Linked DNA regions of Homo sapiens: region 1 is linked to region 2. The links come from fine-mapping of genetic effects on gene expression. A gene starts in region 2. The other region holds a variant in brackets. All regions are shown on one strand. Distances are between the middles of the regions. Region 1 overlaps NEK5 (NIMA related kinase 5). Region 2 holds the start of NEK5 (NIMA related kinase 5).

Region 1 (5,385 bases), 56 kb after region 2:
AGACCACCACTGATGGGCACCTAGGTTGATTCCATGACTTTGCTATTGTGAATAGTGCTGGGATGAACATGTGAGTATATGTGTCTTTTTGGTAGAATGGTTTGTTTTCTTTTGGATATATACCCAGTAATGGGATTGCTGGGTTGAACAGTAGTTCTAAGTTCTTTGAGAAATATCCAAACTGCTTTCTACAGTGGTTGAACTAATTTACATTACATTTCCGCCAACACTACATAAGCATTCCCTTTTCTCTGCAGCCTCGCCAATATTTGTTTTTTGACTTTTTAGTAATAGCCATTCTGACTCGTGTGAGATGGTGTCTCATTGTGGTTTTGATTTGTAGTTCTCTGATAATTAGTGATGATGAGTATTCTTTTATATATTTGTTGGCTGCTTGTATGTCTTCTTTTGAGAAGTGTCTCTTTCTATCTTTTGTCCACTTTAAAATTTGGGTTGTTTTTTCTTGTTCAGTTAAGTTCCTTATAGAGTCTGGATATTAGACCTTTGTTGGATGCATAGTTTGCAAATATTTTCTTCTATTCTGTAGGTTGTCTATTTACTCTGTTGATAGTTTCTTTTGCTGTGCAGAAGCTCCTTAGTTTAATTAGGTTCCACTTGTCAATTTTGTTTTTGTTGCAATTGCTTTTGAGGACTTAATCACAAATTCTTTCCCAAGGCCCATGTTCATAATGGTGTTTCCTAGGTTTTCTTTTAGGATTCTTATAGTTTAAGGTCTTACTTTTAAATTGTTAAGTCATCTTTAGCTGATTTTTGTATACAGTGAAAGGTAGGGGTCCAGTTTCATTCTTCTGCATGTAGCTAACCAGCTATCCCAGCACCACTTATTGGATAGGAAGTCCTTTCCCCATTGCTTATTTTTGTCGATTTTGTCAAAGATTATATGGCTGTAGATGAGTGGCTTTATTTCTGGGTTCTCTATTCTGTTCCTTGGTTTATGTGTTTGTTTTTGAACCAGTACCATACAGTTTTGATTACTGTAGTCTTATGGTATAGTTTGAAGTTGGGTAATGTGACGACTCTGGCGTTGTTCTTTTTGCTTAGAATTACTTTGGCTATTTGGGCTCTTTTTTGTTTACATATGAATTTTAGAATAGTTTTTTTTTTCTCCAATCCTGTGAAAAGTTACATTGGTAGTTTGACAGGAATAGTGTTGAATCTATAGATTACTTTGGGCAGTATGGCCATTTTAATGATATTGATTATTCCAATCCATGCATGTGGCATGTTTTTCCATTTGTTTATGTCATGTATGATTTCTTTCTGTGTTGTGTAGCTCTTCTTGTAGAGATCTTTCACCTCCTTGGTTAGATGTACTCCTAGGTATTTTATTTTATTTTTTGGTGGCTATTGTAAATGGGATTACGTTCTTGATTTGGCTCTCTGCTTGAATGTTATTGGTGTATAGGAATCCTATTGATTATTGTACTTCGATATTGTATCCTGAAACTTTGCTGAAGTTGTTCATCAGTTCCAGGAACCTTTGGGTCGAGTCTTTGGGTTTTCAACCTATAGTATCATAAGCGTGAAGAGATGGTTTGACTTCTTCTTTTCTTATTTGGATGCCTAGAATTTTAGAAAATATTTCTAGAAAAATGTTTGGTGCTCAAGGCCAGGGAACGGTGGCTCACAGCTGTAATCCCAGCACTTTGGGAGGCTGAGACGGGCAGATCATGAGATCAGGAGATTGAGACCATCCTGGCTAACATGGTGAAACCCCATCTCTACTAAAAATACAAAAAATTAGCTGGGTGTGGTGTCACCCACCTGTAGTCTCAGCTACTTAGGAGGCTGAGGCAGGAGAATCACTTGAACCCAGGAGGCAGAGGTTGCAGTGAGCTGAGATCACTGTACTGCACTCGAGCCTGGGCAACAGAGTGAGACACTGTCTCAAAAAAAAAAAAAGGGAAAGAAAAATGTTTGGTGTTCAAATGAGTCCTCCAAATACTTTTTATTCTCCCATTTTATTTTATTGGTGTTATTTCTTTAGATAAATTATTACATTTTAATTTACTTTTCTTTAAATAAAAGAGCTATTTTACTCATAATATTAATTTTTATCATAGCCAAATTAAAATAGAAGACCTGATACATTGTCAACAACTAATATACTGACCTAAAAAATTGAACAGGTACCCTGAAACCAGGCACATTTATTTTAGGTCTTAATTAGTTATTGATAACTTTAAGTAAATCTCATTTATGCATTTGGGCTCTCCTTGCCACAGCAAGGAGTAAATACAGTAAATCCAATACAGTAAATCCAAATTTCATTTTATTAGTTGATTTCAAAATCTTTTTTTATCCTGGTTTTATCAGACCTATAACAAATGTCAAAATTAATTGGTTTATTTTTCCATTTTACCTTTTCTGAATTCACCTTTTAAGTCAATATAAGTATGAATAATTATACCTGATGCTCAGTTTTTATTTAATGTTCTTTATTAGCTTAAAACATTTTCATGTTAGCATTTCTTATTTTTATGAGCATTTGCTACATAAAGACTTCATTAGAGTGGTGATAGTTAGCATTCACCTCTGTTCAACCATAAATTCCTAAATGCCCCAGAGGTGAGACATCAGAGTGGAGCAGATCTGGGGACCTGCTTCTGAGTGGGAACTTGAGAAGTGGTACTCTCACAGAGCTTCTGTGAAGTGAGGTGCTGA[C/T]GTTGCCCTGCTGAAATGAAAGAATGGAGTCCAAAAAGTTTTAACTGCCACTCTTTCTTATTCTTTGCTTTGATCTGCGTGAAACAGAAGTGGTCATTTTGGTATTGACTACAAAATACTAGGAGCAGATTTAGGGAGCTGGTTAAGAATGTTGTACACTTAAAACAGGGCATGAATGAGAAAAGCTTGAGAGCACTGTAGAATGGAGCTGAAGTGGAATACTATTGAAGTCAGAAAGTCTAGATAAAATTAAGTTGCCTTATGACCAGTGCTTGACACTGTTAACATGGAGAAGAAATGAAAACATTTCTGTTTTTATCTAACATAGCTCTAGTTTTAAAACTCTATGGATTTATTTGTTTAGTAAACATTTGTTGAATATTTACTATATACCTTGCTAATTAATTTTACTAGGAACACGAAAATATGGTTTTTCTTTCTTTCAAAATATGGCTAATTTATCATGAAACACTGTGGAATTGATTTAGGCAATGGATATACCAAATGAAACTTTGACCTTTGAGGATGGCATGAAGTTTAAGGAATATGAATGTGTAAAGGAGCATGGAGATTATACAGACAAAGCATTTGAAAAACTTCACTGCCCAGAAGCAGGTATGTGTTTCTTGAAAGTTGTAAATGAGAAGGAACTGTTTTATTAGCAACCCATTTTGAACTCTGTCCCCATGCATCTGCCTCGGCTCCACTGTTACTTGACCCCTTTCTGCCCTCTCTAAGCAAGGCAGAAACACACTTATTATTCTCCTGCCACCCATGCAGTGGCCACACTCCCTGAGATCCAGCCCTCCTCTCCTGCTCCATACCCACTCCCTCTTGCAGCTTTGGCTTCTCCCAGGAGCTCCAGACTTACCAGTCTTTCTCATTGTCTTCTGGGAAGCTCCATGGACAAGTGTTGCCAGTATCTGAAACTCAGCTGTGTAAAGTCAAGCTCTTCTGTGCTCTTCCCAGTGACCCTTTATTTTGGTTAGTGTCACAGATGCAACTGGCTGGGGCCAGTGTTGTGGGCAGTAAAAGAATTTATCAACACAATTGTAAGTAAAGAAAGGCAGATTTATTAAAGTACAGAGATACGTTGCAAGAGTGCAATGGGCAGCACAGCAGAGAAGAGGCTGTCTGCTAAGAGGCAGGGGCTAGAGGGAAGTTTTATAGGGTCATATTGGAGGAGCTACATGCTGATAAGGTGTGCAGATAAGGTTTTGCTGCTTGGGCTACATGTGGAAGGAATGAGGTATTTGGGAACAGGATGTGACAGCAGCTTGTCTGTGATGAGTCATCTCTCAGAACAGTTGTTCCCCCATCCCCACCCCCAACCTGGGACCCCTCCCTTTTTGTTGTTTACTTATCTTATGAGAACTTCACAGTCAGTGCTGTCACCAGGGTGCACCCTTAGCATAGTGTCTATTCTGAGATGTCTCTGGAGTCTTCCTCTTCCTTCATTCTCTCTGTTACTGGTTTAGGGCTCTGTCATCTCTCAGTAGTGTGGTGTAGGCTTCAGAGACAGATGGGAATTGAATCTCAGCTGTTGCTGCCACCTTCTGGTTATGTGACCTTTCTTTCACAAGTTATTCCAACACTGAATCTCAGTTTCACCTTAGGAACAGGGGATAATAGTAGTAGGAATAACCACACAGGGTAATTGTGAGGACCAAAGTGAGTTTTGATGTATAAACGACCTGGCACATACTAGGTGCCTAAATTAAGTGCTGTCTTTTCATTTTCCCTTTTCCTTCCCCTTGCTGTATTGCCTTATTTGCTTATGTGACCTTCTTTCTCTAGTATTTCCCCTTCATTCTCTAAATGGTTACTGTATTAGTCCATTTTCTTGCTGCTGATAAAGACATACCTGAGACTGAGCAATTTACAAAAGAAAGAGGTTTAATTGGACTTACAGTTCCACATGGCTGGGGAAGCCTCACAATCATGGTGGAAGGCAAGGAAAAGCAAGTCACATTTTACATGGATGGCAGCAGGCAAAGAGAAAGAACTTGTGCAGAGGAACTCCTCTTTTTAAAACCATCTTATCTCGTGAGACTCATTCACCATCACGAGAACAGCATGGGAAAGATCCGCCCCCATGATTCAACCACCTCCCTCTGGGTCACCCCACAACACACAGGAATTCAAGATGAGATTTGGGTGGGACACAGCCAAACGATATCAGTTACTAAAGTTATCTTGGCATATTATTACTCTGCTCAGATTTTTTTTTGGATAATACCTGCAGAATAAGGTCCATTCCACATATTATCACATTTAACACTACATGGCCTAATTCTGCTGTGACCCACTTTTCTCATCCCAGCATGGCCTCTTTCCTTCCATGGAAAATGGGATCCATACAGCCTGCTGGAATGCCCATTTTCTCCTACAGCTGGAATGCCCATTTTCTCCTACAGCATTTACAGAACTGACTTGGCTCAGTTTCCTCTTCCTGGAATACTCTCTGCCTCATTTCCTTCTGGAAAAATCTCCATTCAGCAGGCATCTTATTGAGGATCTCCTTTGTGCCAAAGACTGCTCACTGGTAGGGAGCTCAAAGATGAATGAAATCTGGGCCCTGTTCTCAATATCACAGAAGTGTTATGAGCAAAAAAGTCACAAAACATGTTTTCTGAGCCTGAAATGTTAATCACTGTTTGAAGTGCGAGCTGGGTGGAGAGTCAGGGAGGTCCGCACTCC
Region 2 (5,385 bases):
AGTATATATGTGTATACTAACCTGTATACACTGTATAATTGTATATCCATCCAGACATCTCTACAGTTATTTCTGTATCTCTCCATCTGTACATACATTAAATTAAGCATGGGTCCATACTGATGTCTCCAACTAACCCAGTACTACAAGGTTCATTCTAGCCTTCTTCTCACGCTTTTCTGTAACTTCTCTCCCTGACAATGAGAAAACTGGCTTGTACCATCCGCCATCTGCTTAGCTGTTCAATCCTAGTCTATTTGTAAAGCAGTTTCCAAATCATTAACCCATACCCCTGGGAGAAACAAATTTACCAACTAAGGTACAGAGTTTATGTATCTTTCCTATTGTCTCATAGTTTCCAGTCAAATACCATTTCCCAAAATTACTTGGGTTAGCTCTTTGAAATTAGCTTACTACTCTCTTGAAGATTTTTCAAGTTAAAGCAGGCATGGATAGTTTTAAGGACATTTCCAGGTACTCAGCTTCCATATATACTGTATTCCATACCTCTTAGTCATCTTCAATCTTGGCATTGCCCAAGGGCATAAACATTTCAAAACCATCAAACAAAAAAAACTTGAAATTATGTACAGTTACTGAGAGACTGGATAAGTATTGGATAATAAATCCTTTTCAAAATCAGAATGGCTTATGGGGTTTTGCTTTTAATAAAATTTCAGAAGACTAATGGAATTATCAGTTCATGATTATAAACCAGTTTTGGTGACAGATTACTATATGATTCTTGAGATACAACTAGACAAAAATTGAGGGACACTTTTAACAAAACTTTTCATTCCTATGTACTTATTTCTCAGCACTTACAGCCTTAAGAAAATGGAAGAGAATCAGTGTTAAACTTCATTGTAGCAAGAAGTTAGCATTCATCTATGGATACAGGAACTAACGGTGCATGGGAAGCCCATCCAGGTCTTAAAGAGATGAATTTTCAATACAATTTTATTTTTTATATTTAATAATTATCAGTATTGTGATACATTTTATTGTGATCAATTGTGTAGTACTAGTAATTTTAACAATTTAATCCAGAAAAACTAAAATTCTATGAGCAGGAAATATAAATTTCCATTTCTGTACTTCTTTCAGCAGTATGATAGGATGATCAATAAGACTTTCAAGTATGAAAAAGATAACGGGTAAAATTCTATCAGGAAAGTAGAATGAAGATATGATTTAATGAAGCATGTCTAAGAATTCTAGGGAAGAAATTTGGGTGTGGTCACTGACACGTGTAATTAAACAAAAACAAGTAGATCATATACCTACTAATATTTTGAGGGAATTTCACTGCCAAAGAAACTAACATTGGATATTCCAACTGCTAAACAACTTTTGGACTCCTGCTACGGGCTGCATTCACCCCCGCCGCGGCCACCCCCAATTCACACACTGAAATCTAACACCAATAACTAATAATGAGACTATATTCGGAGACAGAGACTTTAAAGATGCAATTAGATCAAAATGAGGCCTTTAGTTCAGCCCTAATCCAACTTGACTAGAGTGCTTACAAGAAGAAGAAATTTTTTGTGGCAGGGACGGGGAGGGGGCGGCGGAGAGATGATTTTAAGAAGGAAGAGTAATGATGTAAACTTAGGATTTTTAAGAGTTTTTTGTGGGTTTTTTTTGTGTGTGTGTGTGAGGTGGACGATGGAGGGTACCATATTACTGTAGTGTTTCGATTCAGTTGGATATATTTAACTTGCGTCACTATTTACAATTGCTGAAAATTACATTTTTTTCAACTACTTAAACATTTTAGACAGCAGCTTGATGTGCAAATCCAGAATGGGGCAGGGTGGGATGAGCACTGGGCGTGAGTGCAGACGCTTGGGCAGCGCCGGTTTCGTTAGAAAGTCCCTTGGCAGGCCGCCGCTGTGGCCCAAAGAGTAGGAAGCCGTTCCAGTCTCACGTCCACCTTTTGGCAATATTTGAGACCTTGTACAAGAAACACTCTTCCTGTATCAGTTTAGCTCATTTGTAAAACTGGGAGACTACTGCCTTGACGGGTTGTAAAGAAAAGAGAGAACGTTTGCGAAGCGTCTGGTGCACCTTAAGCAAGAGCGGGGAGCGCTACTGTAGACTGCAAAGCAAAGGAATCCCGACCCAAGGCAACGGGACGGTTGCGGGGTGACTCTGCCGGGTCTCCAAACTCCCTGGCGCCTGACCCTGCCTCGAGGTGGACTGGTCCCCAGGCCATTCCAGACCCGCGCCCCGCCCGCGTTTCCTTGCGCGGCTCCGCCCCGGCCGCAGGGAGGCGCAGCGGCCCCGGGAACCCGGATCCTTCCGGGACGCTTCGTTGGCCCCGCGGAGCCGGCGGAGCAGGTACGCTTGCAGGGGCCGCCCTTAGTTCTTGCCCGGAGCCGCCACAGGGCTTCGGGAGCTCGGCAGGGTGGGGGAAAGGGATGGAGTTTCGGCCTGGGGCGGCGGGGGCGGCCCAGAAAAGGCCTAGCGTCCTGGGCTGTGTGGGTGTAGCGTCCAGGGCGCGTCGGTCTCTATGGCAACGCTCCACACGCGGAGGTCGGGTACGGGTAAGCGTCTTGCCACTCACCCGCGGCCGCTTCCAGGGGCGGCCCTAGGGGAGAAGGAATTTTCCTAATTTGGGGGCTTCCACCCTTTGGTGCCACTTGGGCGGGAGGGTCGCGGGCCCTCAGTTCCCGGCGAGTCACCCCCGGCCCCAAGTCCGTATGCGTCTCTCTCAGAACCCGATCCTCCGGTGTCTGCAGCCTCTCCTGGCTGCGGAGCTGGTTCCCAGCCCCCTGCAACCCAGTACCGACTTCCCACCCTGACGTAAAATTATTCGAAAACAAGCCCCCTGCTCACCCCATTAACAACAACAACAAAACTGTATTATGCCCTAACTGTAGCATAAAGAGGAAATAGAAGGAAAGCAATAAGTAAGAAAGTACATATTTCAATCTGAAAATGCTTGGCACTACTACCCTTGGAAAATGTAGAGAAGTAGCCAGTAGCCGCGCCTGGGGAGTCGCCTGAACGTGACGGCAGCAAATGCAGATTGTTGGGTCTCCGGGACCAGGAGCAGCGTGGCCAGTGAAGCGCGTGGTTTTCCCAAATGGTGAACAATTCTTGGTAAACCTCCAAACCGAAGTGCAATCAAGCCTTGATTTACATGTAGTTGCATTCCTCGAAAAAAAAAAGAAGTGTTCATTAAAACTGCAAAAATACTTAGCATTTCGATGTAAAATAGAGTTTGGTTCTAGCCACAAACGGATTTTTCCACGCACAGGAATGTATAGGAAGACTCTCCAAGATTGTAGGGCCGCGGGGTAATCCTTTATTGTGCGGGACTGTCTCTCGAATCGCAGAATCCTACCATCTCAGGCCCCAACCACCTGTAAACCTCATGCCTCTGAATCTTGGGGAAACAGCTTCCCCACCCCCATATATTTCCAGAATTCCCCCTAGGGGGCAGTACGTCCCCACTAAGAAAGGCTGAACTATAAAAGTGCACAAGCCTAAGGACATTCCTGCTTTATAAAGGTGCGAAACACCGGATATAGTATCTTTCATTCTCAGAACAAACTTGCAAAACAGGTATTGTTATTCCATTTTAGAAATTAGGAAAGTGAGGTTTTGCCAGGTTAAGTGACTTACCCGAGAATACAGGGCAAAAGTGTATCAAAGCTGAGCTATGACCCGTGTCTGACCAAGAAACTCTGTCTCATTTCAGTTATCTGTGGCCACAAAGAAAGTTATTTGTCTCTGTCTTGGCAAGGCTGGGAGGAAAGTTTTAGCTAAGTGAGTTCTTTTACACTTTAGTCATCAGTTTTCTGACTTTGTTAGTCTTTATGAGACGTGTGTGATAAATTTACATTACTCTAATTCCAGGAAACTCAGCCCATTGGAGACCATGGATAAGTACGATGTGATTAAGGCCATCGGGCAAGGTGCCTTCGGGAAAGCATACTTAGCTAAAGGGAAATCAGATAGCAAGCACTGTGTCATAAAAGAGATCAATTTTGAAAAGGTAAAGTTAAGTTCAAATTTCTGTTAATTTTCAGTGGGATATTCAGCTGGCTTTTAATCCAATATAAAAAGGAAATTTTTATTTTTTATAATTTCGAATTTTAAGCCATAATTGATTTTTGTTAATTCAACCTCCTAAGTCCATTGTCCAAACAGCAACCAATGATCTCATTTTTAAAAAGAGGCTGGACGCACTGGCTCACCCCTGTAATCCCAGCACTTTGGATGGCCAAGGTGGGAGGATTGTGTGAAGCCAGGAGTTCGAGATAGCCTGGGCAACATAGCAAGACCCTGTCCCTGCTAAAAAAAAATTTTTTTAATGAAAATAGAAAAGAAATAAGATCACATCCCTGTGGCTCCTATGGCCCTCCTTAGGGTGCCCTGCAAGGCCCTGTGAGATGCCAGCCTCCTCTGTTGCCCTGACTTTTCTCTGTGGTGCACTTCCTCTCTCCTTATTCAGGTCCTCTACGAGGGGTTTTCTGCAAACATCCTAGCTAGAGTAGACCCCCAGCCACAATCACACCTTATCACCTTATCACACCACCTTGGTTCCTGGTTTCTTTTTTGTTTTCTTTTCTTTTCTTTTTTTAGACGGAGTCTCGCTCTGTCACCTAGGCTGGAGTGCAGTGGCATGATCTTGGCTCACTGCAATCTCCACCTCCGGGATTCAAGCAATTCTCCCACTTCAGCCTCCTGAATAGCTGGGACTACAGGTGCATGCCACCATGCCTGGATAATTTTTTGTATTTTTAGTAGAGATGGAGTTTCACCATGTTGCCCAGGCTGGTCTTGAACTCCTGAGCTCAAGTGATCTGCCCGCCTTGGCCTCCCAAAGTGCTGGGATTACAGGCTTGAGCCACTGCTTCTGGCCTGGTTTATTTTCTTACTAGCATGTATAATGCTCTGCAATTACTTTGCTCTCTTAATTATTCATTTGTTTATTGCTTGTCTTCCTCAGTATGCAGAACAGTTCCTGTCACATAATAGGTGCTAAACACATTTATTGAGTGCACTGAATGAATAGAGAAAAACTATATGTAATTGTTGGTCTAATGATTTTGGAAAATAAATATAGTTAATTAAAAATTAATAATTTTTGCTAAATCCACCTTGGTCAGTGTTTATGTCACCCTCTTTAGTGATATGTTCATTTCATAATATATTGGGACAACAATGTCCATTGTTTGCTAGAATTAATTCTAAGGCAAGTCTTGTTGGTCAGCTTCTAGAGGATTTATAAATGAGAGTAGCATAAAAAGTTCCATACAAAGTGTGTGCAAAATGGACTACCCAAGTTACACCATATGAATATACTTAATGCCATTGAACTGTACACTTAAAAATCGTTAAAATGATATAAATTTTATCTTACCACAA

The links. PIP is the estimated chance that this variant, and not a neighbour inherited with it, causes the effect.
Region 1: its variant is the best candidate, but not a certain one, in a credible set for the expression of NEK5 in lung (TOPMed, PIP 0.62).

The regions. Positions count from the first base shown.
Region 1 is chr13:52,069,859-52,075,243 of GRCh38, reverse strand. It overlaps NEK5 (NIMA related kinase 5), which reads left to right. Exons shown (of 24, transcript NM_001365552.1): 20 at 3,174-3,300. Among named protein-coding and RNA genes, the nearest start is that of UTP14C, 48 kb to the right of the region's middle. The variant C/T (reference allele first, on the strand shown) is at 2,686.
Region 2 is chr13:52,125,990-52,131,374 of GRCh38, reverse strand. It overlaps NEK5 (NIMA related kinase 5), which reads left to right and starts at 2,302. Exons shown (of 24, transcript NM_001365552.1): 1 at 2,302-2,346; 2 at 3,713-3,780; 3 at 3,871-4,009. The coding sequence starts at 3,893. LOC101929657 (a long non-coding RNA gene) reads right to left here and starts at 2,480. Exons shown (of 2, transcript NR_110306.1): 1 at 1-2,480.